4 linked regions of the Homo sapiens genome follow. The protein of the gene in region 3 purifies or fractionates together with the protein of the main gene of each other region. This does not show direct contact. Each region holds a gene or a part of one and is shown on either strand. Other genes may lie near its edges. The genes, in order: KCNAB2, LRP6, MAB21L3 and OTUD5.

The links.
Region 1: the proteins of MAB21L3 (region 3) and KCNAB2 purify together in Homo sapiens (co-immunoprecipitation; one large-scale study listed by IntAct). This does not show direct contact.
Region 2: the proteins of MAB21L3 (region 3) and LRP6 purify together in Homo sapiens (co-immunoprecipitation; one large-scale study listed by IntAct). This does not show direct contact.
Region 4: the proteins of MAB21L3 (region 3) and OTUD5 purify together in Homo sapiens (co-immunoprecipitation; one large-scale study listed by IntAct). This does not show direct contact.

What each region holds. Positions count from the first base shown.
Region 1 is NC_000001.11:6,094,388-6,102,173, forward strand, and holds the end of KCNAB2 (voltage-gated potassium channel subunit beta-2), read left to right. Parts: intron 1-12; coding exon 13-98; intron 99-935; coding exon 936-1,056; intron 1,057-1,142; coding exon 1,143-1,237; intron 1,238-2,248; coding exon 2,249-2,369; intron 2,370-2,881; coding exon 2,882-2,970; coding exon of another isoform or gene 2,971-3,144; exon of another isoform or gene 3,145-3,168; intron 3,169-4,097; coding exon 4,098-4,187; 3' UTR 4,188-6,793; downstream 6,794-7,786.
Region 2 is NC_000012.12:12,258,130-12,265,915, forward strand, and holds part of LRP6 (low-density lipoprotein receptor-related protein 6 isoform b precursor), read right to left. Parts: intron 1-7,786. UniProt on the Homo sapiens protein: Component of the Wnt-Fzd-LRP5-LRP6 complex that triggers beta-catenin signaling through inducing aggregation of receptor-ligand complexes into ribosome-sized signalosomes.
Region 3 is NC_000001.11:116,127,004-116,134,789, reverse strand, and holds part of MAB21L3 (protein mab-21-like 3), read right to left. Parts: intron 7,325-7,786; coding exon 7,146-7,324; intron 6,646-7,145; coding exon 6,451-6,645; intron 1,659-6,450; coding exon 1,425-1,658; 3' UTR 1-1,424.
Region 4 is NC_000023.11:48,946,154-48,953,939, reverse strand, and holds part of OTUD5 (OTU domain-containing protein 5), read left to right. Parts: intron 1-7,786. UniProt on the Homo sapiens protein: Deubiquitinating enzyme that functions as a negative regulator of the innate immune system. Has peptidase activity towards 'Lys-48'- and 'Lys-63'-linked polyubiquitin chains. Can also cleave 'Lys-11'-linked ubiquitin chains (in vitro).

The sequences.
Region 1 (7,786 bases), about 110 Mb from region 3:
CTCTCACGACAGAGACCGTCCGCGCCATGACCCACGTCATCAACCAGGGGATGGCCATGTACTGGGGCACGTCACGCTGGAGCTCCATGGAGATCATGGTACGGTGGCCGCGCAGCATGTGTGTGTCCAGGCACAGACTCCCGGCACCGGCTGCGTATGGAGACCCCAAAGCTCTGGCGGGGTCTGTGCCTTTGGTCCCAACTGCACCGATGCCTGGGTGCTAAGGGAGGGACAGGATGGTGGAGTGTGGTGGTTATGTCTGTAGGCCTTGCAGACGGGGATTCTGCATGGATCCCAGCGCTGTGTGGCCCTGGACAAATGGCTTAACGTCTCTGAGCTTGTTTCCCCACCTGTAGAACACATCTGCTAGGTGAGCCCCCATGGGGCCATTCTAAGGAGTCCCTGAGAGAGCCAGTGTGAAGCTCTTAGCAGATGCCCTGGAGCTCAGCAAGCACTCTGGGGTGACAACACCGTCAGCTGTTTCCACTGGGCTCCTGAGACGTGCCCGGTGCTGTTAGGGTCAAGGGTTCCACAGGGACCCTCTCACATGCAATCCTCACCGGTGCCTTTACCAGGTGAGTGCCGCAGGCAGCCCATTTTTCAGATGTGGACACTGTGGCACAGAGAGGTTCAGTAACATGCCAAGGTCACACAGCTTGGGCCAAGATTAACATCCAGGCTGTGTGGTTCAGAGCCTGGGCTGCTCATAACTGGACCCTCCGGCCTGGGGGTCCCACCACCCACCTCCTTTTCCCAGCTCACCAGGGCCTGCCTGGCTCCCAGGGAAGCTATGAGTGTGAGCAGTGGGGAGCCCGGGCTGCAGCTGCTGGGCCAGCCTGCTCCGGGGACACCTTGGTGCCCTCTCCATGGCTGCCCCGGCAGCCTCCCGCCTGCTCACAGGCAAGGGCCCTCGGGGTCCCTTTCTGCCTTCACAGGAGGCCTACTCCGTGGCCCGGCAGTTCAACCTGACCCCGCCCATCTGCGAGCAGGCTGAGTACCACATGTTCCAGCGTGAGAAAGTGGAGGTGCAGCTGCCGGAGCTGTTCCACAAGATAGGTGGGCACCCTCGGGCCCCTCGCCCCGCCCCACCCCACCCCTGCTCTCGGGCCCAGGGCTTGACTCCACCTGCTTTTCCTCTTCAGGAGTGGGCGCCATGACCTGGTCCCCTCTGGCCTGTGGCATTGTTTCTGGCAAGTACGACAGTGGCATCCCACCCTACTCAAGAGCCTCCTTGAAGGTGAAGGAACAGCCTGGTGGGGAGGGACGGGCAGGGGATAGGCATTTTGGACGGGTGGGACCTTTGGGCCGACTGCTTTGGTGCTGGGCAGGGGTTCCGGGAGCTGCAGCTGTTCCCACCTCGGTCTGCTGGGGGCGGGCTCCTTGGCGTGAGAACATGGAGCCCCTCCTGGCCTGATCCCATGTGTAGAGGGGCTGCCCAGCCTGTGGCACAGGCCCAAGTGGAGAGGCCCTTTCACATCCCCCCCCCTGCCCCCACCACATCCCCCCATCTCTACCCCCTACCACATCCCCCACCTCTGCCCCCCACCACAGCCCAGCATTCAGAACTCTGAGACCCCTGGGCCTGGGCTCCGAGATGGGGGCTGCAAAGCCACATGGAGGTGACCCTGGGAGAGGCGCCCCTCCCCACCACACAACCTCTGAGTGGGGACTCAGGAGGGTCCCCAGACTGCAGGATCTGGAGAACAAGGAGCAGGCCAAGAAAGTCTGCCCAGCCAGCAGTCTCAGCACTGGGGCCCACAGCCCTGGGTTCCAGGGCAACGTGGCCTGGCCCCCGACTCCTCCCATCCCATGGCAAGGTCAGGGCCCCCCTCCAGGAGGCCCTGCAATCCTCTGGGGGGGATGGCCAGGGGAGAGAGCACTCCCCTAGGGCCAGGAGGTTCTTCTGGGCCACGGGTGGCAGCCGAGACCCCAGGCTGCCAAGTTTCCTAAGAGAAGGAAGGCCAGCACCTCGCCTCCTTGTCCTGACTTGGGGTTGGGCCAGCACCACAGTCTTTGCACTTCAGAGCCTGGACAGGCCCCGCTCATCCACCAGCCCGTGCCCGGCCCACTGCCCACTCTCCCCTACTTGAGAGGCCTGGGGCAGGGGCACTGCCCTGGCTTCAAGATGAGAAGAGCCCCTATGAGGGAGAAGGGTCCAGAAGGAATGAGCCCATCGGCCCCCTGCACGTGGGGGTCCAGGTGACCTGCTCTCATCTGTAGCTGTGCTGCTCCCCTCCCCCGCAACCAGGGCTACCAGTGGCTGAAGGACAAGATCCTCAGTGAGGAGGGCCGGCGCCAGCAAGCCAAGCTGAAGGAGCTGCAGGCCATCGCCGAGCGCCTGGGCTGCACCCTGCCCCAGCTGGCCATAGGTAACGGTGGGGTCGCCATGGGGCCAGTGCCCCTGGGGAGAACCTGCCCCAGCTGGCCGTAGGTAACAGGGTGGGGTTGCCATGGGGCCAGTGTCTCCGGGGAGAGAGGGAAGGGATCCCTGGACATCATCCCCCAGCCAGCCTCGGGTAATCGGGCTCTAAGGGGCATGGTTGGGACCCCATGCCTCTAGGGGGATGTCAGGAGTCCCTGAGGACCTGGGCCACCCCCTCCATCTGCCAGCCATAGGTAATGGGGCTCCCGCTTTCATGGGAAGAGGATGGGGAGCGCTAAGCACTTGGGCCACCTCTCCATCAGGGAGCAGCGGGCTCCCCCATGCCTCCTCCAGCCACCTCTTAGACAAAGCCCGTGCCCAGCACTGCAGGGCTTCCTAGACCCCCTCAGACCCCCAGACCAAGATGCTGGGTCTCTCGGCCCAGTCAGAGGCAAGGCAGACCCATCAGGGGCCCCTGTGGTGGGTGTTTCTCCCTCACCTTGGGTCTCGCCGCCACAGCCTGGTGCCTGAGGAATGAGGGAGTCAGCTCCGTGCTCCTGGGGGCCTCCAATGCGGACCAGCTCATGGAGAACATTGGGGCAATACAGGTAAGAGTGAGAGGCCCTGCTGGGCAGAGGGCCCATCCCAGCCCGAGCCCCGTCCAGTGCATCCTCCCAGGCTCGTCCTGCGTGCCAGGCTCTGTTCTAGGCACTCAGGATGCGCCCGTGAACCATCAGAGTTGTGCTCCTGGAGAGCTTGCTTTCCAGCAGGAACAGACATGAACACTAACTGCACGAAACAAGGAGGTTAGAATGTGTGTCAGGGTGGACGAGCGCTGTAGGAGAGAAGCCAGAGATAAAGGGAGGGAGCTGGGGCCAGGGACGGTGGCGCTGCAGACTCAGGTTCAAGGGGGCCTGTCAGGTGGGCTTGTTGAGAAGGTGGTGCTTGAGCAGTCTTGAGAGATGCGGAGTAAGTCACGCAAATGCCTGCGGGAAGAACCTTCCACCAGCAGGAAGAGTTGATGCAAAGGCCCAAAAAGGCCTGGAGCAGAGGGGCAGATCCTGAGAGGCACGAAACACCTCCAGGGACTTCTGAGTGAGACGGGAGCCGTGGCAAAATTGTGGGCAGAGGAGGGCGAGCTGCAGCTCAGCCTGGAAAGGGAGGCTGCTCTCCGGCTGCTCCATCGGGGAGGCTTTGGGAAGCAAAAGTCGAAGCAGAGAGCCCTGGTGGGAAGTGGCAGCTGCGGGTCCGAGACGGGAGTGGTGGTTGGATCCTGGATGTTTGGGAAGGTGGGGCCCCCGGGACTGGCTGACAAACTGGATGTGGGGGTGAGAAGGCGAGGTGGAAGTCGGTCCCCGGGTGTGTCACCCGGAAGGGTGGCGGTGCTGTATGCTGAGGCAGGCGCAGCTGGAAAAAGCAGTCACGGACATGGAAGTCCAGCATTTGGCCTGGAGTTTCCATTTTATGTCACTGCTGCCACCACCCTTCAGGAAGGTTCTAGGGCACCTTGACATTTGAGAGGGAGTGCACAGACCCAGGCATGCTTCCTCTCTGCCCCAAACCTTCTGAAACACAAAAGCAGCGTGGCCTCCATCTGCCTCAGATGGAGCCCAGATGTGATGGGGCAACCCGGGCCTGGCCAGCCGACCATCTGGAAGAGCCTGGCCCCACCTCCTCCCCAGGCCAGGCCCGTCTTGTTGGTGGGATTCTGATTTGTTGTTGTTCTTGCACGCAGGTCCTTCCGAAACTGTCATCTTCCATTATCCACGAGATTGATAGTATTTTGGGCAATAAACCCTACAGCAAAAAGGACTACAGATCCTAAGCCGCCCCCGCCCGCCTGCTCGGACAGTTTCCGTTCCCTCCTAGTCTCTGTTCGCTCGCTTAAGCTGTTTTGAAGCCAAGTGAAGAGTGTGGTTTGCATCCAAGAGAAAACACCACACTGTGATGTCATCGGGAAATGATCTCCCAAGTCGCTGCCAGACACCACCCACTGCTTCGCCGGACAATGTCGAAGTCCAGTCTGTGCCGGGGAAGGCACTGGTTAGGAAGGATGTTCAAACGGTCCCACCCAAGCCTGTCACCTCTGCTCATCCTCCAAGACCACCCAGCTTTCTCCCAGCCACAGCCAAGATTCCCAAAGTCAAGGCCCAAAGATTTCCAAGGTTCCCAAAGTCAAGGCCAGGCCAAGGCCTGGTTGGGTCCTTGGGGCGGGCAGGGCCAGCCTCTCCTCTGCTGAGAATCCCCACTTGGTGTAGGGGGAGAGGGGAAAGGGGTCTGGCCCATCGAGGGGCCCCTTCTGCCAGGGCCTTGGTTGCTGGGGCAGGGCCTCCCCACTGGGGGTCTTCCTCCACCTCCCACTTTCCAAGGGCTCCAGGAATCTGGGGCCTGACCACAGATTCCTCTCCCATCCTTTTCTGCTCCAACCTGCCCCACTGGGTCCCGGCAGGGGCCATGCCTACCAAGCTCGAGCTGGCCCTTGACCCCCACCCACCCCCACCCTTGCTGGCAGGGGCAGGGACCCCAGGGGGATTGACTCTGCAGTTTGGGAGCCACAAAAAGCGTAGCGGTGTGATTTCTAGCTCAGCCTCCCACCGTCTTCCTCCTACACACCAATGATGAGCCTCATGCCAGTGAGGCCCGGAGCGCTTGGGAGGGGTCCCAGTGGGGCAGGCCCCTCTGTCTGGCCACCCCTCTGTCCTGGCCCCGGAAGGCCCTGTGGTCATGTGCTCCTAGCTGCACGGTGGCTGCTGGCCACACCACGGCAAGTGGCAGCAGGGGCCGGCCCTGTGCACAAGGATGCACTCCTCTCGGCCCCTGTAGACTTTCTCTAAAGCCGCCCGCCAGCCCAGGCCGCTGCTCTGCACCGAGCTGGTGGGCTTGGGTTTTGTGGAGCGCATGCTTGGACCCTTTCAGTAAGGAAGGGTCTTTGGGGTTTTCTGTGCCCATGACTTGGGGGCTGCACCCCCACAGCACCCCCACAATGTAGGAAAAGACCTCAGGGAACCTCTCCCTGGAAAGACGGGCAGGGCTGGTTAGCCCCTCCCACTGCCTGACACCTGGGACAGGCTGGGCAGAGGGGAGAGAGGGCAGGACAGGCCAGAGTGACGCCCCCGTGCAGCTTGGGCCGGAGGGCAAGGGATGCCAGTAAGTCTGCAGGTGCGGGGTGCCACCTACAGGCCCAGGCCTGTGTCCCAAGCAGTACCCAGGCTTTGCAGACCACGCGGGGCAGGGCTCCACTGAAGCCACCCCCACCCCTCGCCAGCTAGCTCCATAGGGAAGCCTGTGTCTCCTGCCCCCAGGGCGCACCCTCAGTGCAGGCACCTCTGTTCCCGCTTTGCCCCTGGAGGAGCCACTATTCCAGAAGGCTCCACCCTGCCGTCCTGCGGGAGCCTGCTGTCCAGTCCTGGCCGGGCCAAGGCCTGGGAAACTGTGAAAGTCAGAAAGGCCAGCGGGGAGAGGCTGGGGCGAGGGGAGGAGGGGGATCAGCTTCTGCTATTACCGACCCCCCTTCATGCTGCCCCTGGCGCCTAGAACCCTTGCCCCTCCTCATAGACCAAGTCCCGGGGGTCTCCACTCAGTCCTGCTGCCTGCTTCACCAGAAGCAGCCCTGTGAGTGTGGGGTGGGGAAGTCCCTTCCCAACGGAGGTCCCAGCCTATGGCCCTGGGCCCAGGTGGGGGTCGCCTGCTTCCTTCCCGGACAGGGTCCTGCAGTGGCCAATGGTGCCAGAGGGCAGGTGGCCCACCCTCGCCATCAGGGAGGGTGGCTGGCCCCATCCCCACTGCCACCCAGCCCCACCCACTGTTGGAAGAGGGACCAGCGCGAGGTGGTGCCCAGGGTGGGCACTGCTGCTTAATGCGAGGCACACCTGGGGCAGCTGAGCCCCCAAAGGCTGCGGGTTTGCCAAACACAGAGAGGCCAGGCCCCAGTGTCAGGATGCAGTCAGCCTCTGGCGCAGCTCTTTCCACGACCTGGTTCCTGGATGTCCTGCTTGCTCCACACCCATCTACAGGGAGGATGTGAGGGGGCTCTGCCTCCTAGGGCCAGGTCCCCCCTCTCGGGAGGAGGTATTGGGTAGGACCATCCAAGAAAGGGCAGAAGACCAAGGGCAGTCGGGGTCTAGAAAGGAGGGCGCTGGCCCTGCTGGACGCTTCGGAGCCCCCACTGTTTCCCACTCAGCTTTGTGCTCAGATCCCAGGTCCCAAGGAGTGACAGGGGCTTCCTCCCACCTTCTGTCCTTGTCCAGTCATGTAAATAATGTGCTTTTTCTCTCCCCGAGTCTTTTTTTTTAAACCTACCGTGGTTCCTCAGCTAACTGCATTCCCTACCCAGGCAGAGACTGTCCTATGCCTCGAGCTTCCAAACGAGACTCAGACCGCGACACAGCCACCGTATTTATGGAATGACAAAATAAATAAAGCCCAAACCCATCGGTCTCTGTGACTTTTTGCTCCTCTCATTTCCTCAGGGTCAGGGCTGGGCCAGGGTGACACGGGAGGGGAGGAAAAGGCTGCCAGCAGCAGGGCCTGGGGCATCCCCCAAACCGGAGCCTGCAGCCAAGGGCAGGTGGGTTGGAAAGGGCCCGTGGAGAGAGAGCGGGGACAGAGAATGGGGACAGGGTGGTCAGAAGACCTGTCCCCCATCTCTCCCAAGCGATTCAGCCAAGGGAGGGTGCGTGCCTCCCCTGCCGCCCCCAACACACACATTCTCTTTCACCAACTCTGAGGGCCCAAAGCTGCTTGCTGGGAGGCTGCTGTCCCTCTGGGGACCTGGCTGGCTGCTGTTCTCATAAGGACAGAGGTCCAGGCCTGGGGAAGCTCTCATGGTATGTGTTTGGGGTACAGGTGAGAGGGGCCTCACCCCAGCACACCCCTGTTTCGGGCTCCCCTCCTTCCCAGTGAGCCCCTGCACCCGTGAAATGACCATCCCAGGCAAGAGAAGGCTTCCGGACACGCCCCCACCCCCCACCACTCCTCCCTGGCCCCAGCCCCCACCCCCATTCTAAATCTTGAATCTTAAAAAGAAAAAGCCTCTGATTAAATCCTTTCCCAAAGGATTTATTAAAACACAGAAAACCAAAACATACACACAGAGTACAAAGTAAAGGTGATTGTGTTGGCTACAGCCTCTGTCCAGCCTCCCGTGGGCGAAGACCAGACAAGCCACGGCTCACAGGGGAGCCTGGCTTCCAAAGCTGGACCCGCCCCCGCCGGGGCCACCCTGGCTGGGACTCCTGGCGCGCCTTGCACCCAGCCCAGGGCCCTCCCTTTGCCAGCCTGGGGCTGTGCCTGGGGAAAGGGGTCGGCCCCCTCTTAGCTGGGCCTGGGCCGGTGGAGTCTGCTCCCTCCACACCCCTGAACTCAGACCCCACGGGCCAGTGGGGACCCTCCCTTCCTCTCCAGGGGTGCTTGGGCTCCAATCGC
Region 2 (7,786 bases), on a different chromosome or scaffold from region 3:
ATTTATTTTGAAAGACAGGGTTTTGTCTGTGATATGGAGTGCAGTGGCATGATCATGGCTCACTGTAGCCTTGAGTTCCTGGGCTCAAGTGATCCTCCTGCCTCAGCCTTCTAAGCAGCTGAAACTACAGGCATGTGCCATCGTGACCAGATAATTTTTTAATTTTTTATAGATGTTTCCCAGGCTGGTCTTGAACTCCTGACCTCAAGTGATCCTCTCGCCTTGGCCTCCTAAAGAGATGGGATTACAGGTGTGAGCCACCATGACCCAGACTAAGAAATCTTTGTAATCGTTACAAATTTATAATTTAACTATAGCTAATGAACGATTGAGTCAAAACACAAAATGGCATTCCAAATAAATGTCATAAAAATTCACATCTTTTTATATTACTTTAAATGTAAAATTTACAGTGCTCAATATGTGCAAACCTCTGGTACATGGTGCATATAAAGGGGAAAAAGGTCTACTCTTCAAAAACTTTTCATCAAAGAGCTATTTCTGCATTAGCATAAATCTAGAAGGTTACAAATAAAGACAATATAATGTGTAGCTAAGAATTCATGGTAATGAAGTTCACTCGTCACCTTTCTCAGACTTGCAAAACATAGTATCTTTAAACTGGATATATGGATATACAGTACTTAAATTATACGTACCAATAAAGCTAATCATTAGTGAGGAAGACTCCTATCCCTTGCAGTCCTTTACTTGTAGTTTGGGTCTTGTAGTGATAAAACAATGACTAAGACCATTAGAGAAAATAGCCTCCTGGTTAAACATACATAATTTGATAAAGGTAGGTTTCCAATATTTGGGTGACTATTTTCTTGGGAAAAAAAAAATGACAGCTGTGTGCAGCAGGCTCACGCCTGTAAGCCCAGCACTTTGGAAGGCCAAAGCGGGTGGACCACCTGAGGTCAGGAGTTCGAGACCAGCCTGGCCAACATGGTGAAACCCCATCTCTACTAAAAACACAAAAATTAGGTAGGCATGATAGTGGGCGCCTACTAATCCCAGCTACTTGGGAGGCTGAGACAGGAGAATCACTTGAACCCAGGAGGCAGATGTCACAGTGAGCCAAGATCATGGCACGGCACTCCAGCCTGGGTGACAGAGCGAGACTCCATCTCAAAAAAAAAAAAAAAAAAAGACTACTGCTGGTCATGTTATTTTTATTGAGAGTCTCATCAATAACTTTAGGCCTGGTGTTAATAACTTACATAACTTAATGTAGTTTTCTGCCTAAAAATATAATTTCATTTTGCATCCCCAATCTCCTCCTGAAATTAGTTCCAAAATATTTAAGCACTTATACAAGGTCCTTCCAAGCAAGATATTACAGAAACTACAAGTTATGATACCGCTAAAAGGATCACAGCATCAAAGTATCAATAATTTTCACCGAAGAGTCCAAGCACATTTTAAAAGTTTCTAGCCTCACACCCGAACAGCTTGAACCTTTAGTGAGAATACTCACTGCCGCAAACACGAACAGCTTGAGAAACAAAAGCATATGTTAATAATACCAAATAACCTTGTTTCCTTGCATTTATGTACTGACAAATTGTATTTTAAAATAAATAATTTTAAGAGCAAACAGCCTGTTCTTAGATTGCCTAGTCTGTATATTTGACTAAATTTCAAAGTTACTCATATAAAACAGTGTTTTATTCACTGAAGTGAGGCTTACTTTATAGAAGATAAACACCCTTATCCGAAGTGAAAACATGCAATGCAGAAACTCAGTATAGCATTCAGCCATCCTGCAGAAAGAAATCCACCAACTGAATAATTGTTGTAAACAAATAATGCAATTTCTCAATTAGATGTCTTGATAAAATTATTTTGCCCATGCTTAACTCTTTAATAAGTATCACAATCATTTGAACTGTCTGTTCTGTAGCTTATTTATAATAATCATCACCTAAAATAGTTATGGCTGCAATCCTTTAGAAATAAATTTAGGCCAGGCGCGGTGGTTCACGCCTGTAATCCCAGCACTTTGGGAGGCCGAGGCGGCTGGATCACCAGGTCAGGAGATGGAGACCAACCTGGCTAACATGGTGAAACCCCGTCTCCACTAAAATACAAAAAAAATTAGCCGGGCGTGTTGGCGGGGCCTGCAGTCCCAGCTACTCGGGAGGCTGAGGCAGGAGAATGGCGTGAACCCGGGGGGCGGAGCTTGCAGTGAGCCGAGATTACGCCACTGCACTCCAGCCTGGGCGACTGAGCAAGACTCCGTCTCAAAAAAAAAAAAAAGAAAAAAAATTTAGTGTCATTCCGTTTTATATCAAACAAAACAGAAATTTCCATAAGTAAAAGTATTTTATGGAGCTTTTATTCCAGTTGCAGAAGAATCAAAAAAAATTCCAAAACCACTGGCCTAAAACTATCAACTGCCAAAAACAGTGCCCAGGACATAGCGACACTTAAAATGTTTTACCAGTCTTTCCAGAGTATAATGTTTCTTTTAATTCGGCCATCTTAATAATAGCAACCATTTATTCAATGTCTACTATTGACTGTGCGTTCTACTACCCCTTTACAAACATTTCGTCAGTTCTCACAGAAGTCTTGCAAGTTATATCCCCACCTAACAGGAAAGGAAATAACTTGTCCAAAGGAACACAAAGCGGCAGAAGAGTTTAACTTGGCCTGTTTAACAACAAGCCATGTCTTTCTGCTATAGTACCTTCCATATAATCTTCTCTAAATGTAAACTTTCAATAGAATTTCTACGATGAAAATAATCTTTCTCAGAGTAGTTACCCATGGCCTAAATAGCACTAAACATTATTTTTCCAGTATGCGCAAAATATTTAAACAAAAAATATACGTTCTCATAAAATATTTTCCATTAATATATCCCTTCCCAGAATCTCCTTTGATATTTAAAACAGTCCTTTCTGACAGCCAAAGCATATATAAGGACACAGTAGTTCAGTACAGCAAATGGAAAAACTTCCAATTAAAGCAAAGAAAAAAATCTCTTAAAAATTGAATCATGGCCGGGCGCGGTGGCTCACGCCTGTAATCCCAACAGTTTGGGAGGCCGAGGCGGGCGGATCACGAGATCAGGAGATCGAGACCATCCTGGCTAACACGGTGAAACCCCATCTCTACTAAAAATACAAAAAATTAATCGGGCGTGGTGGCGGGCGCCTATAGGCTGAGGCAGGAGAATGGCGTGAACCCGGGAGGCGGAGCTTGTAGTGAGCTGAGATCACGCCGCTGCACTCCAGCCTGGGCGACAGAGCAAGACTCCGTCTCAAAAAAAAAAAAAAAAATTGAACCACAGGAAATCACTATTAGCCCTTCTGATAATAACAAGCTAAAACCTTAAAATTTAATAACCAGACAAATTATTGTTTAGCCAAATGAGCAAACCTGAAGCCAGGTAAGTAAACAGGAATGACAGTATCAAATTAACTATATGAAACTGTCATCAAATATCAATGTAATACTTGACAAGTTTGGAAAATAATAGGTTAAACAAAGTTAAAACCGGTCTCTTTACCTCAGGACTTTTCAGAACCCTTAATGTGTTAACATGAATTCTAATCTCCAAATAAAGTGTACAGAGATCACTCAAGGTTACACAGCAAATTTAGAACCATAACTTAATTCTCCTGATTGCCACTCCAAAATTTGTTCTACTTCCCCAAGACTTTATAACACCTGATTTTAAAGGAAGAAAGGATCGCTTCTACAGAAATACAAGATGCAAAACATTAGTGGTTTGTTCCAACAATATTTACCAGCCCACCAAAACAAAAAAAAGTAACGAAGAATTTTTATATAACAAGCCTCCTCAAAAAAAGCTAAAAAGGCCAGGCGCGGTGGCTCACGCCTGTAATCCCAACACTTTGGGAGGCAGAGGTGGGTGGATCACCTGAGGTCAGGAGTTCGAGACCAGCCTGACCAATATGGTGAAACCCCATCTCTACTAAAAATACAAAAATTAGGCCGGGCACAGTGGCTCACACCTGTAATCCCAGCACTTTGGGAGGTCAAGGCAGGTGGATAACTTGAGGTCAGGAGTTCAAGATCATCCTGACCAATATGGTGAAAGCCCGTCTCTACTAAAAATATAAAAATTATCCGGGCATGGTGGTGTGAGCCTGTGGTCCCAGCTACTCAGGAGGCTGAAACAGGAGAATTGCTTGAACCCAGGAGGGAGAGGTTGCAGTGAGCTGAGATCATGCCACTGCACTCCAGCCTGGGCGACAGGGTGAGATACCGTCTCAAAAACCAAAAAAATACAAAAATACAAAAATAAGTCAGGCATGGTGGCAGGCACCTGTAGTCTCAGCTACTCAGGAGGCTGAGACAGGAGAATCGCTTGAACCAAGGAGGCAGAGATTGCAGTGAGCCAAGATCGCGGCACTGCACTTCAGCCTGAGCGACAGAGCGAGACTCCGTCTCAAAAAAAAAAAAAAAAGCAAGCTAAGAAATAGTATTTCACAGATTACACACACCGATGGTATTCCAAAACCTATATTCTTATCAAAAATACTTCCAGCAGAAGATCAGATATTATTTTTTCTCATCAGTATCCGAATGGAACTAAGAAAATGGTAAGGATGGCAACCTAAACTGTGAGGCCCGTTAGATTAGGAAACACATTGTTTTACTCACCATCAGTACCAGAGGCTGACATATAGGAGGTATTCCATACATATTTGCTAAAAGAATGAATAATAAATCCCTGCCCCATCTTTAATTAACCTACCTTTATTAAATTACAGTATCTCTGAATCTGAGTTTCCCCACTTACAAATAAACTGGTGAGGCTCAAACGACCAAGATCCCTTTCACTTTTAAGAATGTGTGAATCTGGGCCAGGCGTGGTGGCTCACACCTGTAATCCCAGCACTTTGGGAGGCCGAGATGGGCAGATCACCTGAGGTCGGGAGTTCGAGACCAGCCTGACCAACAAGGAGAAACCCCATCTCTACTAAAAATACAAAAAAAAAAAAAAAATTAGCTGGGCATGGTGGTGCATGCCTGTAATTCCAGCTACTCAGGAGGTTGAGGTAGGAGTATCGCTTGAACCCGGGAGGCGGAGGTTGCAGTGAGCCGAGATCATGCCATTGCACTCTAGCCTGAGCAACAAGAGCGAAACTCTGTCTTTAAAAAAAAAAAAAGAATGTGTGAATCTGGCCGGGCGTGGTGGCTCACGCCTGTAATTCCAGGACTTTGGGAGGCCGAGGTGGGCGGATCACGAGGTCAGGAGATGGAGACCATCCTGGCTAACACAGTGAAACCCCGTCTCTACTAAAAAATACAAAAAAATGAGTCCCAGCTACTCAGGAGGCTGAGGCAGGAGAAAGGCGTGAACCCGGCAGGCAGAGCTTGCAGTGAGCGGAGATCACACCAATGCACTCCAGCCTGGGCAACAGAGCAAGAATCCGTCTCAAAAAAAAAAAAAAGAATGTGTGAATCTGCACCTGTAATCCCAGAACTCCGAGAGGCGGAGGTGGGAGGATCACTTGAGCCCAGGAGTTTAAGACCATCCTGGGCAACATAGCAAAACTCTGGCTCTATAAAAATTAGCCAAGTGTTATGGCACACAACTGTGGTCCCAGCTACTTGGGAGGCTGAGGTGGGAAGATCACATGAACACAGGAGGTCCAGGCTGCAGTGAGCAGCGATCATGCCACTGCACTCCAGCCTAGGCAACAGAGCAAGACCCTACCTCCAAAAAAAAAATAGGAATTCGTGAACCTGGCCAAGCATGGTGGCTCACACCTGTAACCTGTAATCCCAGCACTTTGAGAGGATCACTTGAGGCCAGGAGTTGGAGACCAGCCTGGGCAACATATCAAGACACCCCCACACCAACCCCATATCTACAAAAAATTGGGGGCATAGTGGCACGTGCCTATAGTTCAGAGCTTTGGGAGGATGAAGCAGGAGGATCACTTAAGCCCAAGACTTTGAGACTGCAATGAGCTGTGATTACACCACTGCACCCCAGACTGAGTGATGAAGCAAGACTTTGTCTCTTTAAAAAAAAAAAAATTGTGAACGTTATACAAATTAAATCTCAAATCATGAAAGCATTTGAGGATATGTCCCTGAACAAGCAAAAATTATAGCAAAAAGTAACATTAACAAGGTACTCCATATTATTTCATTTAAAACACCCAATAACCCTGCAAACTAGTCAGGTATCATTATCCACACTACCAGTAAAGAAACTGAGACCTAGAGAAGCGGACTAGACCAGAACCACAAAGTTATGAAGTTGTGACACTTGGGCTTTAAATCCAAGATTTTAGTATTGAAATTCCCAAATCTTTCCTTTATACCTTGTCATGTGATGATAGAGATAGGGACACAGCACTAACAGTATTCCCTGGCTTTCTGCTACTAATTCAACAGGGCTACAGGACAGAAGGTCTCCCAGACTCTCACATACCCCATCACACCCAGCCAATGTTAAAGCCCCAATTCTTTGTGGGGGAAAAAAATGACCTAAATGCAACAAATCAATCAGATTTTTCTCCTTGGAGTCCAAGGTTGACTAAATATCTTTACTATAACAGAGGATGACATTCTCAAAGAATGAATTAATTCTAAATTATGAACAAAAATATTTTACATCAAAAGACAGTTTTACTTCAAATAATATGTACTCACAGCTAAGTACAGTACTGTTACATATTAGAAGACCACCTTACACCATATTTCGCCACATTTAAAACGAGAGCTCCACTTCTGAAAACTTTGCTAGTGGAAACGAGACAATTTAAACTATTACCTCTTCCAGGTCTTGTTACATAAATAAGTGCAACCTATCTAAATTCCAATAATGAACAAACCCAGCTCTGGTCTCAAAGCTGGTGTTAAACAAACGGCATTTACATCACACGCTTCTCCTCCAAGAAATACAACTAGACAACCAGAAACATCCCAAGTTATAAGTTTTCCCACGACTCTAACCAATCAGCTGGTTCTCATATTTGTCAGCCCTATTAACCTTATGTCTTAAAATACATACATATTCTTATGTCAAATATAGTTGTTTCTAACAGCTACAGCAAAACCCCTTTCAATAGAGTATGCCAATAATAAAATAAGTATATACTTATGAAACCTCTCCAGTACGTAACACTTCATTAAAATTTCTGCCACAAAAATCTAATGAACACTACCTTTCCGGGGTTTACATGTGGGAAAACTTTGTAATATGCTTAGAGTATCAAGTAATATAACATGCAAACACAATGCTGCATTACTACAGAGTAACTGAAGAAAGTATTTCTCCTCCTCCAAAAAAAAACTCAATCATTCTCATCCGAAATACATATACACAGTACACGCAAAAATATACACCTGTCACAGACTATTAGTTACTATTAGTGTTCTGTAAACTTAAATTAGTTTGGAGAACTTAACAAAAGTTTAGCTTGTTAACACCTAAAAATCTCCAGCGACCAGCGGTCACATGCCTGAAAAGAACTTACTATGAACGCCAGTAAGAACTTTACCAAACCAAAACTACAAGCCACCGTATCGAGCAGTACTTAAATTCCTCTGCTGGTAAATGCTCCACAGCCATCACAGCCATCTCAAGTTCAACACTAAATAGTTTGAGAAGAGCTGCCGACGGGCCAGTCAAAAATCTTTGTGAACTGTCACAAAAGTCACAGAGCATGTGTCAGCTTTGCAGTCCAATTCAAAACATCATAGTGCCATCGAATTCAAGCGATTCCCAGAGCAAATTATCTCGAACAGCCTATGCAATTTACCAAAGTGCCAAGCAGTCCCCAGGGGT
Region 3 (7,786 bases):
AATATGTTGCCTTGTGGGCCTCTGTGAAATTCCAAATGGGTGGCTCAAGAGCACTCAGTGCCCAGCTCCTGTGTGAGTCCCCAGACCTTCTTCATGCAGTTACCAGAACAATTGTTTAAAATGCAGTCAGATCGTGATACTCTTCTGCTTCTGGAGAGGCCAAATGTCACACCTTTGATCTTAGAATAAAATACTGATTCCTTCCTGGCTTTACAAGGCCAGGTGCTCTGACTCATGCCAGCCCCACCATGCCTGCCTTTGGTCACTTTTCCTTCCCCTTCAGCTATTTGCATTTTCATCCTTCGGGGACCTTTCTGTGGACTCTACTTCAACATTCTGTTTATTTCCTTTGAAGCACTTGCTTCCATCTGTAATAACTGTGCGTGTTTATCTGTCGTTCATTTCTTGTCTCCACCATTAGGTGGCATCCCCAGGGGGAGGTCCTCATCCACTTTGCTCTTTGCTGTGTTCCCGGTGCCTAATGAGCATTATTTGTCAATGAGTGAGTGAGTGAATGAAGTGAGCAAAGGAACACACTGAGCAGTGACAGACACCTAAGGTCACTCCATGCAGATCATAGTACTAGGTTATTTACATAAATATATAAGGAAGTTCCATCCATGGCCCATGGCATGGGAAGCAAAGAGAGGGCTATGGTTGGGATCAGGCCAAGAGTTGTACTTTCATCTTTGACTTACACTTATCATCAAAACCATTCCCCTCCCTGCTTAGAGAATACCAGCGAAGCAGACAGAACATCAGGAGCCACTGACCCACATGCTAAGGAAGCTGGAGGGCAGCAAGGAAGCACAGGCTCACTAACTCATCAGGTGCAATTTTGCGTCAGTGCTGTGGGTACCGATCCAGGATGCAAACACCAGCTACTCAACCAACCAGGAACACTTTGTGTTGATCCAATGCCTTCCCCTTGAAAAGGCGCCAGCACAGTTTCATAGGCACACAGCCCTGCTCAGAGGTAGGCACGTTAACATTCCCATTTTACAAATGGCAGGAGAATGTGCCCATGATCAGTGGGCTGGGCACAGTATTGGCCAGCAGGCTCATGTCCAGACTTCCAGGGGTTCTGTCTCCATCTTCACTGTGAGACGATCACAGCCTGAACAAGGGAAACTAAGTTCAGAACTGTCACCAGTTCCAAATCTGTGCCTGGGGAAGCCTGATGAGAGCTGTCTCCAGGAGAATTAGCTAGGGCAGAAATGCTTGCTGGGCTCCAGGGAGGCCTGGGCCAGACATCCTGGGGCACAGTTTTCCCCCTGCTGAAGTGTTTCTGGTTTGATGTAATTTCCGCTGCCATTCGTGGCCTTTCTCCTAGGCAGGATCCTGGCACCTGACTGAGGAACCATCCAAAGAACAATGTTAAGCCAGAATAAAATGTCCAAGAGCCTCCCAGGCCGGGGCAACCATCAGGGCGGGCCGATCTGGGGGTTCTTCAGGAAGGTGGCCAGCTTTTGGGCCACAGTGTCCAGTTCAGTCGGGTTGGTGCACTGAAAGAGGTTGCTGTTCCGGACGAAATAGTGTTTCAGGAAGTGCTGGCTCACGCACTTGTGCAGTTTCCTCACCAGGCGCAGAAATGCTTTGCTGAAGACCTGCCAGTCTTTAAAGTGGGGATATTTCTCGCAGGTCCAAAAGAGCACAGTCTGTGGAAGGGAGAAGTGCTGTCAGACATTGTTTCGGGCAATTGAGGAGGATAGCTTGGAAACAATTATTGAGCTTATGTGGCCTTGGAAGGAGGGAGAAAAGAGTTGCCTGGGCAGACTGGATCTACCATGAATTCACAATCCCCAACTTCAGGTGGGCCTTCAGTTTACCAGCTGGTCTCCCGCACCTCTTCCCTAATCTATTCCCTCACTCTCCTCCAACATTTCCAATGTTCACTAATCCAGGCAATGTCTTTGCCTCCTACTTTACGGGGAAAATGGAACCCCTCATCCTCCCAAACCAGACAGATCTTGCCTACTGCGGCACCCACCTCTCTTCCTCCCTGCTTCTGCCTCTTCTGCCTGTGGGGCTGATCCCTCCACAGGGCCCTGGATCCCATCTTCCAGGAACTGTATATGACTGATTACCCTCTTCCTCAACTGCTTTTCACAAGTTGAGAGCTCTCCTGCAACCCCAACCCCACATCTGCCTCCTGCCCTCACTCTTCCCTCTGCAAATCCAGGCTTCTCTGGAGAGTCGGCTCTATTATTTGTGGTCATTTCCTCTCCTCCCATTTCTTGCCTCAGTCTGCTCCAATATGGATTCTTCTCTCATTAATCCTCAAAGGCTCCTCTCGTCAAGGCCCAGTGATCTCCACTTTTCTAAATCTAATAGGCCTTTGTCAGCCTGCACCTTACCTGACCTTTCAGCAGACCTGGTTCTCTCGCCCACACCCTCCCTCCTGAGCCATCCTTCACTTGACTTCCAAGCAATCTGCTCTCTGGGTTTTTTCTCCTAGCATTACAGCGCCTCCCTGGCAGGCTTTTACTCCTTGGCCTGCCTTTGAGAAGTGGAGTTTCTGGAGGCTCAATTCTAGGCCCTCTTCTCCTCTCAGTCTACATTCATTCCTCAGCTCTATGTTGCCTCCACCACAGCAGCTCTAATTCTCACTACATATGAATGACTTGCAAATTTGTGTCTCCAGCCCAGACTTCTCCTCTGACCTGCTTATCGTGTATCTCTTGAGTATCTGAAAGTTATCTCAGTCCCAACATGCCCAAACTGAACCCCTGCTCTTCCTGCACAAACCTGATCTGCCTCCAGAGTTGCTTAACTAGCTAGTTGTGCAACACGAAAACCTAGGAGTCGCCCTTCTCCCTTACCGTCCCCAGTCAAGTCCTGTAATCCTCTTGTCTAAGTATTTCTCGAGTCTACCCATTTACCTTCACCTCCAGTATTATTCTACCATCCCCCTCCACACTGCCTCCACATCTCACTGGACCTCTGCAGTAGCGATCTCATCAGCCCATCCCTGTTCTTGCCACCATCCAAATTATCACCATCCATACTGCTGCCAATATACATCTACTTCCCTTCTCATCTAAAATACTTCAAGGTCCCATCCTGGCTAACACGGTGAAACCCCATCTCTACTAAAAATACAAAAAATTAGCCAGGCGTGGTGGCGGGTGCCTGTAGTCCCAGCTACTTGGGAGGCTAAGGCAGGAGAATGGCGTGAACCCAGAAGGTGGAGCTTGCAGTGAGCCAAGATCATGCCGCTGCACTCCAGCCTGGGCAACAAAGCGAGACTCCGTCTCAAAAACAAAAAAAAAATTAATAAAATAAAATACTTCAAGGTCTTCCCATTGTTTGTTAGCTAAAAACATCATCCTTAATGTGGTGTGGTTTATAAGGTTTGGTCCCTGCCTTCCTTTCCAGACTCATCTTGACCTGTGTCCTCCCTTGCTCTCTTCATGTAGCCACACCAGCCATTTCATGCTCCCTTCTACCACAGAGCCTTTGCACATCCTGCTTCGGCTGCATAGGGCACACTTCTTTCCCTTCTTTGTCCATCAGATCAAATTTCCCTAGTACACCCATTGCACACTCTCTTAGTCATGTACTTCTCATAAGAAGCAGCGACAACAGTAGTAGTTTTTATATTTATGTGATTAATTTTATCATTTCCCCTACTGGATTATAAACTTTATGAGAGCAGTGAATGATGCCTATTTTTATTCACTATTAAGCTACCCAGTACCCAGCAAAGGCTAGCCCATGAGAGGAAGTTAATAAACATTTATTGAATAAGTGAATTAATGAATTATCCATTAATGTTATGGTTTAGATATTGGGTTATTTTTATACAGTCTTTATTTTTTAGAGCAGTTGTAAGTTCATAGCAACTATGTATTTAGATTACGTTATTATGAATAAATGAGTTAGAGATAATTTCATGCAAGCGAAGATAACCTAGATACCAGAAAAAATGTTAATTCCTCTTGTTAATTAAGCTTTTATCTCCCTAAGCAAACTGGGGCAGTTAAGCTCATTATAAGCAAGCCAATGTATTTTGAGTGGGTTTTAGGAATAAATAAGGCAATAAAAGATAAGCTTTTGCTTCACATGAAATAGTCTTGGGGCAGAGCCTTTTTGGGGAGAAGGTGAGGGCCTTGTAAGAGAGTGTCAGACTTAAGGTGAGGCAAGGCTGAGTGCCACAGCTTCCTAATGCTGTTTTGCAACCCAACCTCTTCCACTTTCCTCAAAATGAAGATTTGGCAAGGATCCAGCACACTCAAGTCATCATCTGGGATGGTGTCTAGCACCACATTTATCACCAGCCACATTCATTTCAAGGGCAGGGATGCCTAAATGGGAGATAATTCTGTCTGTGGACTAAGGATGGAAGACCAGAGAAAAAGGCAGTTAGCACTTTCTGTTTATCTTACTCCAGAAATAGCCCACTTAAAAAAAATGCCCATCCTTGAGGATGCCCTATTGTGCCACACAGGTGGGTCAGGGAGGATTGAAACAGAGAATCCTTAAGGAGTTGCCTTAAAATCCACCAGGTGACTTAGGAGCCATCAGAATAGAAGTCAGCCCTTGTGGGGAGTACAGATTTGCAAGCAGCCATGGCTGGGAGATCCATGGTGGCCCCATTCAATCCTGCCTGAAATATTCATGTCACCGAATGGTATTTCCATCCATCTTAATTGAGAGGTAATGAAGTCAATCGTTAAGGTTATGAGGTTTTGATATGAGATAGACTTGAGTTTGCGTCTCAGCTCTGCCTCTTCTAGTGTGGCCTGTATAAAGGAAAGCAAGAGAAGCTAAATCCACAGAAAGAATCAAAGTATCTTCTGCAAGCACATGCCCTCCATCCAGGAGAACAGCCTGCGTGTTTTTAGGGAAGTGTGCTTGGGACACGTTGAGAATGTTGGAACTCCAGAGAAAAGCCCCAGTGCATGTGAATGAGATGTTAACAGATTCTTCCGCAGGTCAAAATGGACAGGTTATTGGAAAGATAAGAAGGTGAAGCAAGGTTAGTGATTTTGTGCGAAAAAAAGAGAAAAGTTGAGTAAGATGTGAAGCCACTCATTCATTTGCTCAACAAATATTTAATGCGCTACTATGTACAAAGCATTGGGAGAGATAATGGGGGTTTTGTTCACCTTCTCCCAATGAATAAGAACATCGAGTTAGGTCAGCATGCCAGCTGGACAAGATCAATGTGGTATCTGTCCTTCAATAAGTTACTTTAGAGCAGACAGAGTAACATGGGGCTGGAAGACAGTTTTGTCCATCGAATGAGAGAAGGAAGAGGTATGTGAGGAAGGCACCTCACAGATAGGTGACTGCCCCAGGGACTTGTGCTTACCTGAGTAGAAAGGGAGTCCATCCTTTCTGGGGCCAGGGAGGAGGGCTGAAGCTAGGCTTCACAGCCCACACTAGCTAGGCTGGGCTGGGGTGTCCTGCAAGAGTCTCCTACCTCCCTACTCCAGCAGGCTGCACAGAGCTGCTACATGAGAGTACACTTCACTCTGTGTGGTTCACAATTTGAGAAAGAGGGAGTCGGGAGGGTGGTCAAAGGCCCCCTCTCCAGGGAGGCCCCCTGACTGCCCAGTCCAGGTCAGGCTCTGCTGCTCTGAGCCTTCACAGAGCCATACTCCTCCCTTTCCAGTGCTTCCTCACTGTGTGATTGTACACGCACCCACTGGCTTGCCTGACCCATGTCTATCTCCCATGCTAGACCAGAAGTGCCATGAGTGAGGAAACACATCTGTGTCTGTTCACCTTTGTGCCTGCAGAGGTTGAGCCCACAGCAGGTACTGGGGCAGGCCTCTGGCCCAGAGTAATCTCAATAAACACTTGCTGAATGAGTGAGTGAAGGCATGAATGAATGTGTACTGTTGGGTTTAGGGCAAGGAGAGGCAGGGGCTGGCAGAGCAAGGGAAGATCCTTGCCTGGTGATTTGGACCCTGGAAAGAAGTGTGTGGCACTACGTGTGTGGTAACCTCTGTGTTGCATTTCCTGGTCCCCTCTGTGTTAGTGGGTCTGTGTGCATGAGGAGGTGTGCGTAGGCTGCAGTGGGTTTAAAGACTGGCGCAAACATAAAGCCATCAAAGTGTGAGGCACAAACCACATTTTGTGATTCATTTCTGAACCTCAGCAGGGTTTCTGGCACCTAGTGAGCACTCAGGTTGGTTTGGTGGGTAAAATAAAAGTGAGAGGGGAGGAAAAGTGGGATAGAAGAGAATTGGAAAAGGGAAGGGAGGGAGGAAATTTTACCCTGGGCAGGGGTGTTGTGGACTCCCATATGGTGCTAGTTTACATATTTCCATAATACGTAGTAATTTGTTGGATGGCAAATATAGATACTAGAACCTCATCCTGAATTTTTCACACATGCTACCCCTTCTGAGTGGCTCTGGCCAGGCCCTACAGAGGCCACAGGAAGAATGACCTATCCAAAGCTGCCCCTGGGTCTTCTCCAACCTGCCCCACACTCACCTGCAGATGGTGGGACGTGATAACCGGCCTGTTCCCTGGGCACCAGATGTCCTCCTTCAGGTGCCTCATGACCTGAAAACACTTCCTACGGCAGCCCCCATCTTCATCCAGCTGTTCCAGTAACACCTGCTCAGCACGGAGGAAGCTCAGCTGCCAGTGATAATTTGAACAGGCCAACAAGTTAAATCCAAACGACTGGAAGAAAGAGAAAAATATTGGGAAATAAGAAGAACAATGCTCACTGGTGTAGAAAGCCATTTCTGAAGCAGTCTGCTGGTCTGGGGAACTTGTCACCAGGCAGACAGCACATCCTACGTGGGGATGAGAAGGGGGTGCCAGGGAGACCACAAGCCACCTTGGATGTGGACAGTTAGAAGATGGTGCCCACTTCCTCTCCTACAGCAGTTCTCCAACTTGAGCATACATCAGAATCACATCACCCAGAGGGCTTCTTAAAACACAGATTGCTGGGCCCTGTTCACAGGGTCTCATTCAGCAGGTCCAGAGTGGGGGCTCGGGAAGCTGCATTTCTAACAAGTTCTCAGGTGACGCTGCTGCAGGGCCCACACTTTGAGAACTGCTGATCTAGTAACACCTCAACTTTCCTTCGGAAACTCATTGGCAGTCAGTAATGCTGTGACTGGTTAAGCTGTTGGCATCACTGCTCTGGCAAGCTGGGTCCCGCCCACTGATACCTTGATGCACTCCACTCTCTCTTGGGAAGGCCAGCGCTGCAGACATCGAGGCCACCGGGCTTTCTTGGACCAGGTGGTGGGGATCTCCACTGCGGGGACCAGCTCCAGTTCCACCTGATATGCAGATGTTTCCACAGCAACCCAAACTGCAGAGCGGTTTCCTAGCAGGCTGACCTTACCTGGTGGGAAATGACCAAATGGATAAGGAGAAGAGAAAGGTTTGCACATTACAAGCGTTCAAACAAGAAATTTGTGAGCAGTTGCTCTGACCAGCACCTTGCAACTGGTGTGGCAACTTTCACAATGTCTGTAGCACGTGAAGGATCACAATGCCTGTAGCACGTCAAGGTTTTGACATCAAAACCAGATGGTTAGTCAGCTAGCCAGCATCGGAACATTACTAAGAAGTCTCATTGCTGGTGAGTTTTTCTTTCTCCCCCAACCCCAAGGCATTTGGGGTACCTTTTCTTTTAAATTAATAGATTCTTTTCAGGAGGATCAACTGAAAGTAAAAGCCATAGAATAAAAAGAAAAAGTGTAGTATAGATGCTCCTTGACTTACGATGAGGTCACATCCTGATGAAGCTGAAAATATTCTAAGTTGAAAATGTATTAATACACCGAACCTACCAAACATCATA
Region 4 (7,786 bases), on a different chromosome or scaffold from region 3:
ACTGTCACTAGGGGTGGTTGTAGCCTGGAGGTCAGTTGGATCCCTTGGGAAGAGAGGCGTCGTTGAGGGGGAGTCTAGATGGCGATTCTGGGGTTCTGACTACTTGGGCTTCCTCTTTGTCCTGATTCTCTTGTATCCCTACTTCCTTTAGGAGTCTTTTTGGCACTCTGGGGTCCAGGTGCTGGGTGGGTGGTGATGTCAGGGGTTCCCAGGCATGGCTGCCTTGCTGAGAGTCTGCTCTATGAAAAGGTTGGCCTGTAAGCATCCTGAGTTTGGAGACCCCACAGAGCTCTTTGAGAAGGGGCATGTGAACTGAGGTGGTGGAAAAAGCTGGGTGTGGCACGGTAGTTGGTGCCTGGGTTCCAACTCTGGGTCTTTCAAGGCTTTGCTGGATGAACCAGGGTAGGTTCTACCTATGCTCTCTGGGCCTCAGTTTCCTCACTGGCCAGGCAAAATGCTGGTGAGGTGTTGTTTAGCTTTGGGATTTTAGGGAACTCAGTCCAAAGTTCTCTGGACCTGGAGGTGGCAAAGAATGGTGGATGTCTTTTGAGGAGGAACTGGGTTTCTCCCCTCTCTTCCTGGCTCCTCTGTTCCCTCTCAGCCATCCAAGCTTGGTGGGCAGGACAAGCAGCCTGTTTTGTGTGAGGCTCAGGGTTGATGAACAGCCATTTTTTGTGGGCAGCCATGTTGTAATGAACAAGCTCGATGGGATTTCCTGTCAGGAGGCCTGTTGGATAGTGGTGTAGAGAGGTAGAGTTGTGTGTGGAGTTTGGGCTTTGGAGCAAGGCAAGCTTTGAGCCATCATCCCTCAATTCTCTCATCACCTCCAGACCTCAGCATCTCCTCCTTACCTGCTTTATAGCTTTAGGCAAACTACTTGCCCCCTCAGCTGCCCATTTTGCAAAAGTTTGTCCATGCCCAGGTGTGTCTGACCTTGCACACCTTGGACCTTGGCCGGTTCTTCCTCTTGCCCAGAATGGGCAGTTTGCCCCAGGGTCATCTTGGTTCTTCCTAGGAGCCTTTGTCCACTCCTAGTAACCTATCTTTGATAGCAAAGGCCCTTCATTTGGCATCTAGGAACCTGCTGATTTCTTGGGCTCTTCTTACCCCAACTGGAATTGGGTAGCTAGCTGGTGGGGAAGCAGGAAGGGGTCTCTGCCCAGGCAACGTGGATTTGAGTCCTGTTTCTGCAGTAAGCTTTTCTGTGGTCTTCAGGCAGTTCTCTTTTCTGGTTCTTGGTTTCTCCCTCCATGAAATGGGTAGTGTTGAGGAGGGAGGTTGGACTCATTGCTCTGAAGCAAGTTATAGTCTCCTCCCTGCTCCCACTCCCCTCACCCTTCATGAAAGTTTTAAGTGGGACCCCTTGGCCTTTGGGGATTGTGCTAGGACATTTCAAGCAGTGTTCAGCGTCCTTGGCTGGTGCTGAGCCCTTGGGTGTGTTTCTTTTAACAACTTTAATGAGATGTAATTCATGTACCATACTATTCACCTCTTTGAAGTGTACAGTTCAGTGGCTTTTAGTATATTCACAGATTTGTGCGTCCATCACATCACTACAGTCCATTTTAGAACATTTTCATCACCTTAAAGAGAAATCCAGCACTCTTTAGCTATGATCCCCCAATTTCCTCATCCCTTTCCAGCCTCTGGCAACCACTAATCTACTTTCTGGCTTGATTGATTTGTCTGTTCTGGATGTTTCATGTAAATGGAATAATAGAATATGCAGTTGTTTGTTACTTGGCTTTTTTCACTTAGCATAATATGTTCAAGGCTTATCCATGTTGTAGCATACATCAGTGCTTCATTCCTTTCTATTACTGAATAACAGGACCTTGGGTTTTTTTGTTTTTTGGTTTTTGTTTTTGTTTTTGTTTTTTTTTTAAGGTGGAGTCTTGCTCTGCTGCCCAGGCTGGAGTGCAGTGGCGCAATCTCAGGTCGCTGCAACCTCCGGCTTCCGGGTTCAAGTGATTCTCCTGCCTCAGCCTCCCAAGTAGCTGGGGCTACAGGCATCTGCCACCACACCCGGCTAATTTTTGTATATTTAGTAGAGATGGGGTTTCACCATGTTGGCAAAGCTGGTCTCCTGAACTCCTGACCTCAGGTGATCTGCCTGCCTTGGCCTCCCAAAGTGCTGGGATTACAGGTGTGAGTCACCGCACCCTGCCAATCTTAGAGGTTTTTAATCCCCCTGCCCTCAGTGGCCTAGCCAAATGTTGGGGCCTTGCTCTTCTCCCCTTCTGCCCTGGAGGGCTTGTGTTGGTCCTTAGAGAGTAGTGTGTCTATGTTCCTCGTTGGATGGGTTGCCTGTGTGTGTTTTTTTTTGAGATGGAGTCTCACTCTGTCCCCCAGGCTGGAGTGTAGTGGCGCGATCTTGGCTCACTGCAACCTCCACCTCCCAGGTTCACACCATTCTCCTGCCTCAGCCTCCCGAGTAGCTGGAACTACAGGTGCCTGCCACCTCGTCTGGCTAATATTTTTGTATTTTTAGTAGAGACAGGGATTCACTGTGTTAGCCAGGATGATCTCGATCTCCTGACTTCGTGATCCGCCCACCTCGGCCTCCCAAAGTGCTGGGATTACAGGCGTGAGCCACCACGCCTGGCCCCCTGTGTTTTGTCCATGGAGCCAGGCTAGTGTTCCTGGGTGCTTTGCTGGAGGGGGTGGTCTTGGCACCAGGGCTGCTGGGACAGAGCTGTGAGTCACAGAATGCTAAACACCTTTTGACCATAGGCTCTGGGAAGACATCTGTCCATGAACTGCCACTGCTGCTGCCATCTTTTGCCCCCCCACCCCACCCCCACTTCAGTGGCAGCTCATCCATCCATAGGCAGGGTCAGTAGTTTCCCAGGGTGAGAAGGGAGATTCCAGGCCCCTGCTGCCTTAATTCTAACCTCCCACCCTGGAGGATGGTAGGCAGGTGGACCTTGCAGAGCGGGATCCATGCCATATTGTCTCACACCTGTGAGGCACTAGGGAACAGACACCAAGGAGTGCTACCAAGGGGGGTGTGTTAGTTTCCTGTGGCTGTTGTGACAAATGTTACCACAGACTGGGTGGTTTAAAACAACAGAAGTTGGCCGGGTGCGGTGGCTCACCCCTGTAATCCCAGCACTTTGGGAGGCCGAGGCGGGTGGATCACGAGGTCAGGAGTTCAAGACCAGCCTGGCCAAGATAGTAAAACCCCATCTCTACTAAAAATATAAAAATTAGCTGGGTGTGGTGGTGGGTGCCTGTAATCCCAGCTACTCGGGAGGCTGAGGCAGAGAATTGCTTGAACCCAGGAGACGGATTGGAGGTTGCAGTGAGGTGGGGGTTGCAGTAAGCTGAGATTGCGCCACTGCACTCCAGCCTGGGTGACAGAGCGAGACTCCATCTCAAAAAAAAAAAAAAAAAAAAAAAGAGAGAGAGAAGTTTATTCTGTCACAATTCTGGAGGCCAGAAGTCCACAATCAGTTTCACTGCATCCAAATCAAAGTGTTGGCAGGGCCACACTCCTTCTGGAAGCTCTCAGGGAGAATTTAGACCTTCTCTAGCCTCTCGTGGCTGCCAACATTCCTTGGTTTATGACTGCATCATTCTAATCTCTGCCTCCATCTTCACCATCGCCTTCTCTGTATATGTGGTTTCCTTTTCTGTCTGTATCAAATTTCCCTCTGTCTCTCTTTTATAAGGACACTTGTGATTGCATTTAGGTCCTACCTGATACTCTAAGATAACCCCCCATCTCCAGATTTAATAATGTAAGTTAATTACATCTGCAAACACTTTTTTTCTTTTCTCTTCTCTTTTTTTTTTTTTTTTTGAGGTGGAATCTCACTCTGTCACCCAGGCGCAGTCTCGGCTCACCGCAACCTCCGCCTCCTGGGTTCAAGCTATTCTCCTGCCTCACCCTCCTGAGTAGCTGGGATTGCAGGCGCCCACCACCACACCTGGCTAATTTTTGTATTTTTAGTAGAGATGGGGTTTTGCCATGTTGGCCAGGCTGGTTTCAAACTCCTGACCTTAGTTGATCCACCCGCCTCGGCCTCCCAAAGTGCTGGGATTACAGGCATGAGCCACTGTGCCCGGGCTTTTCTTTTCTTTTCAGACAGTGCTGGCCTCTGTCACCCAGGCTGGAGTGCAGTGGCGTAATCTTGGCTCACTGCACCCTCCACTTCCTGGACTCAAGTGATCCTCCAGCCTCAGCCTCCTGAGTAGCTGGGACCACAGGTGCGAGCCACCATGCCCGGTTAATTTTTGGTGTTTATTTATTTGTTTTTGAGATGGAGTCTCGCTGTGTCACCCAGGCTGGAGTGCAGTGGTGCTATCTCGGCTCACTGCAACCTTCGCCTCCCAGGTTCCAGCGATTCTCCTGCCTCAGCCTCCTGAGTAGTTGGGATTACAGGCGCCTGCTACCATGACCAGCTAATTTTTGTATTTTTAGTAGAGATAGGGTTTCACCATGTTGGCCAGGCTGGTCTCGAACTCCTGACCTCAGGTGATCCACCCGCCTCGGCCTCCCAGAGTGCCGCGATTACAGGCGTGAATCACCGTACCTGGCCTGTATTTTTTGTAGAGATGAGATTTCACCATGTTGCCCAGGCTAGTCTTGAACTCTTGAGCTCAAAGCGATCTGCCTGCCTTAGCCTCCCAAAGTGCTGGGATTGCAGGCATGAGCCACGACGCCTGGCCCTACCTTTTTCATTATAAGGTAACATTTACAAGTTCCAGGGGGGTTAGGGTTTGATATCTTTGCGTGGCTATTAATCAGCCTACTAGAGAGGCTTTTTTCCCTCCTGGGGAAGGGAAGGGAACTCATTAAGTGGTCTCTTACTGGGCAAAGCCCTGTAATATTTGAGTCTGCCCAGCATCCCTATTATTGGGAGGCTTGGTATCCCCATTCACAGATTGGAAAACTGTGGCTCAGAGCAGTTCATCATCACATGGCTAATAATTGGTGGAGCTAGATTGGAACCTAAGTCAGTTGGGTTCCACAGCCTGCTCCAACTTCACTTGGGCCCTTAGACCACTAGGTTACAGAATCTTGCCTCAGCTCCTGGGATCCTCTGGTGTTAGGGAGCTTTACTCAGCCTTTTTGTGGAGGCTCAAAGATATGGAGGGATTTTCCCATAGGCTCAGCGATGAGTTTGCAAGGTTCACAATCTCCTCAGGCCAGGGCATTGTTGGAGCTTAAACTTATCTATGGCTGAGCTATCCCCTACCCCCCACCCCTACTAGCCCTTCCTGAGCAACATTTTCTCCCCAAAAGGAGAAAGAGAAGGGCCAGAGCCCAAACTCCTCAGGCTGCTGATGACAAAGCCAGTGGGTGGCTAGCAGTCCAGCCTCTAGATCCAAGCCTGGATGCCAGTTTGACTGCCCCAGGACCCAAACCCTGCAGTGCGAGGGGCCTATTCAGGTCTCTTTCATGTTTAGAGACAAACCAGGATATTCTGTGGATGGGCTGCAAGGTATGTCCTCCATGCTGTGGCTCGTGGGGGCCTTCCCTGTTGCCTCTACACTAGGCTTTGCTGGTATCCAAACTCCAGCTCCTTTCTCTTTCTGCCTTTGTTTTTTTGTTTTTTGTTTTGTTTTTGTTTTTGTTTTTGAGACATAGTCTTGCTCTGTTGCCCAGGCTGGCTGGGGTGCAATGGTGCCATCTCGGCTCACTGCAACCTCCACCTCCCGAGTTCAAGCGATTCTCCTGTCTCAGCCTCCCAAGTAACTGGGATTACAGGCACACGCCACCACGCCCTGCTAATTTTTTGTATTTTCAGTAGAGACAAGGCTTCGCCATGTCGGCCAGGCTGGTCTTAAACTCCTAACCTCAGATGATCCTTCCGCCTTGGCCTCCCAAAGTGCTGGGATTACAGGCGTGAGCCACCGTGTCTGGCCTCCTTTCTGCCTTTGTAAAGTGAGGGTAATGTTTCCTGCCACCTGGGCTGTGGTCAGGAAAATTAAACGAGGTCACCCTTTGCATCTGGCATGGGGCAGGTATTCAGTTAATATGAGTTCATCTTTCTTCCTGGTCCTCCCTGCTTACCTGCCTAGTACTACCCAGAACTTTAGCTCTACTGAATTCATTGCTGGGCTCCAGGCATTCCTGGTACTTCGTGGCAGAAGTGACTTCATTTCTCATCCAGTTAACAAGCATTTTTGGAGGTCTTGGTGTTTTAATCCTTTGGTCAGGTGGCACCTCCTCTCAGGTGCTAGCCTTAATGACTGTGTTTCTTTTTTTCTTTTTTTTTTTTTTCCTTGAGACAGAGTTTTGCTCTTATTGCCCAGGCTGGAGTGCAATGGTGCGATCTTGGCTCACCACAACCTCCGCCTCCCGGGTTCAAGCGATTCTCCTGCCTCAGCCTCCCGAGTAGCTGGGATTACAGGCATGCACCACCACACCTGGCTAATTTTGTATTTTTCAGTAGAGACGGGGTTTCTCCATGTTGGTCAGGCTGGTCTCAAACTCCCGACCTCAGGTGATCCGCCCACCTCAGCCTCCCAAAGTTCTGGGATTACAGGTGTGAACCACCGTGCCTGGCCCAATGACTGTGTTTCTTTTCTTTTCTTCTTTTTTTTGAGACAGAGTCTCACTCTGTCGCCTAGGCTAGAATACAGTGGTATGATCCCGGCTCACTGCAACTTCTGTCTCCCAGGTTCAAGCGATTCTTCTCCCTCAGCCTCCTGATTTAGCTGGGATTACAGGCATGCACCACCATGCCCAGTTAATTTTTTTTTGTATTTTTTAGTAGAAACAAGGTTTTACCATGTTGGCCAGGCTGGTCTTGAACTCTTGATCTCAAGTGATCCACCTGCCTCGGCCTCCCAAAGTGCTGGGATTACAGGCGAGAGCCACTTCGCCCAGCCTCTTTCTGTTTCACAACACCTGGCATTTACATTTTTCACAGCCTTGTTCATACCTTGTGGTGGTTACCTGTTTCCCTACCCCTCTGCTAAGTAGTTTGTGAGCTTATCAAGAGTGGAGACTAAGTCTGATTCATTTCACTGTCCTCACTGCCCAGCCCAGTATCTTACTTAGTAGCTACCTGGTAAGTCTTTCTTGAATGGATAAGTAGGAGCCCCTCTCCTGTTTGATCTCCTTTTCTCCTCTCTTTTTCCCCTCTCTCCAAAGCCAGGAAGTCGCTGTGTTCCCTTCTTTTTAAGAACCTATTCTTGTGTCAGGTTTGGGACTATAGTTGTGGTTGCACCATCCCTGCTGGAGACCCCTGGCTGGGGCAGGCCCATGACTCTGGGAGATGGCTGACCATGTGTGGCCAGGATGGACTTGGGCATAACTGGCTGGAGTGTGTTAATCCACAGGCTTGGGGGCAAGGAGGGACACCTGGACCACTGGAATGTTGTGCACAAACAGGAGTCCTTGTGCTGCGCATGGAAGCTCATTAAGGGCTTCCAGGTGTCTTTGTCATCTCTAGAAATCCAGCCACATTTTCCTGGGGTGTGGGCCCTGATGATGGGACTGGCTGGGTATTCCCTTGTCACCTCTTCCTCCCCTCCTGTCCCGCTACTCACCTGGGACTTTCTGAGGGTCTCTCAGTTGTGCATAATCTCTGTGCTGATCTCCTCCCCTTCTGTGATTGGCGACAACTTCCCCTAGTATATGGTACGTTATTTACAAAGCTTCTTTAGGTCCTGAAACTCCTCACAGCTCTGTCCGGTAGATCAACATATCCCCCATTCTATAGGAAACTGAGAGTGATAACAGACAGCAAGTGTGTGGCAAAGCTGGGGTTGGAACCCAGAGCTCTTGCGTTCCAAACCTTGTGCTTACAACTTTGCCAGAGATGCTTCT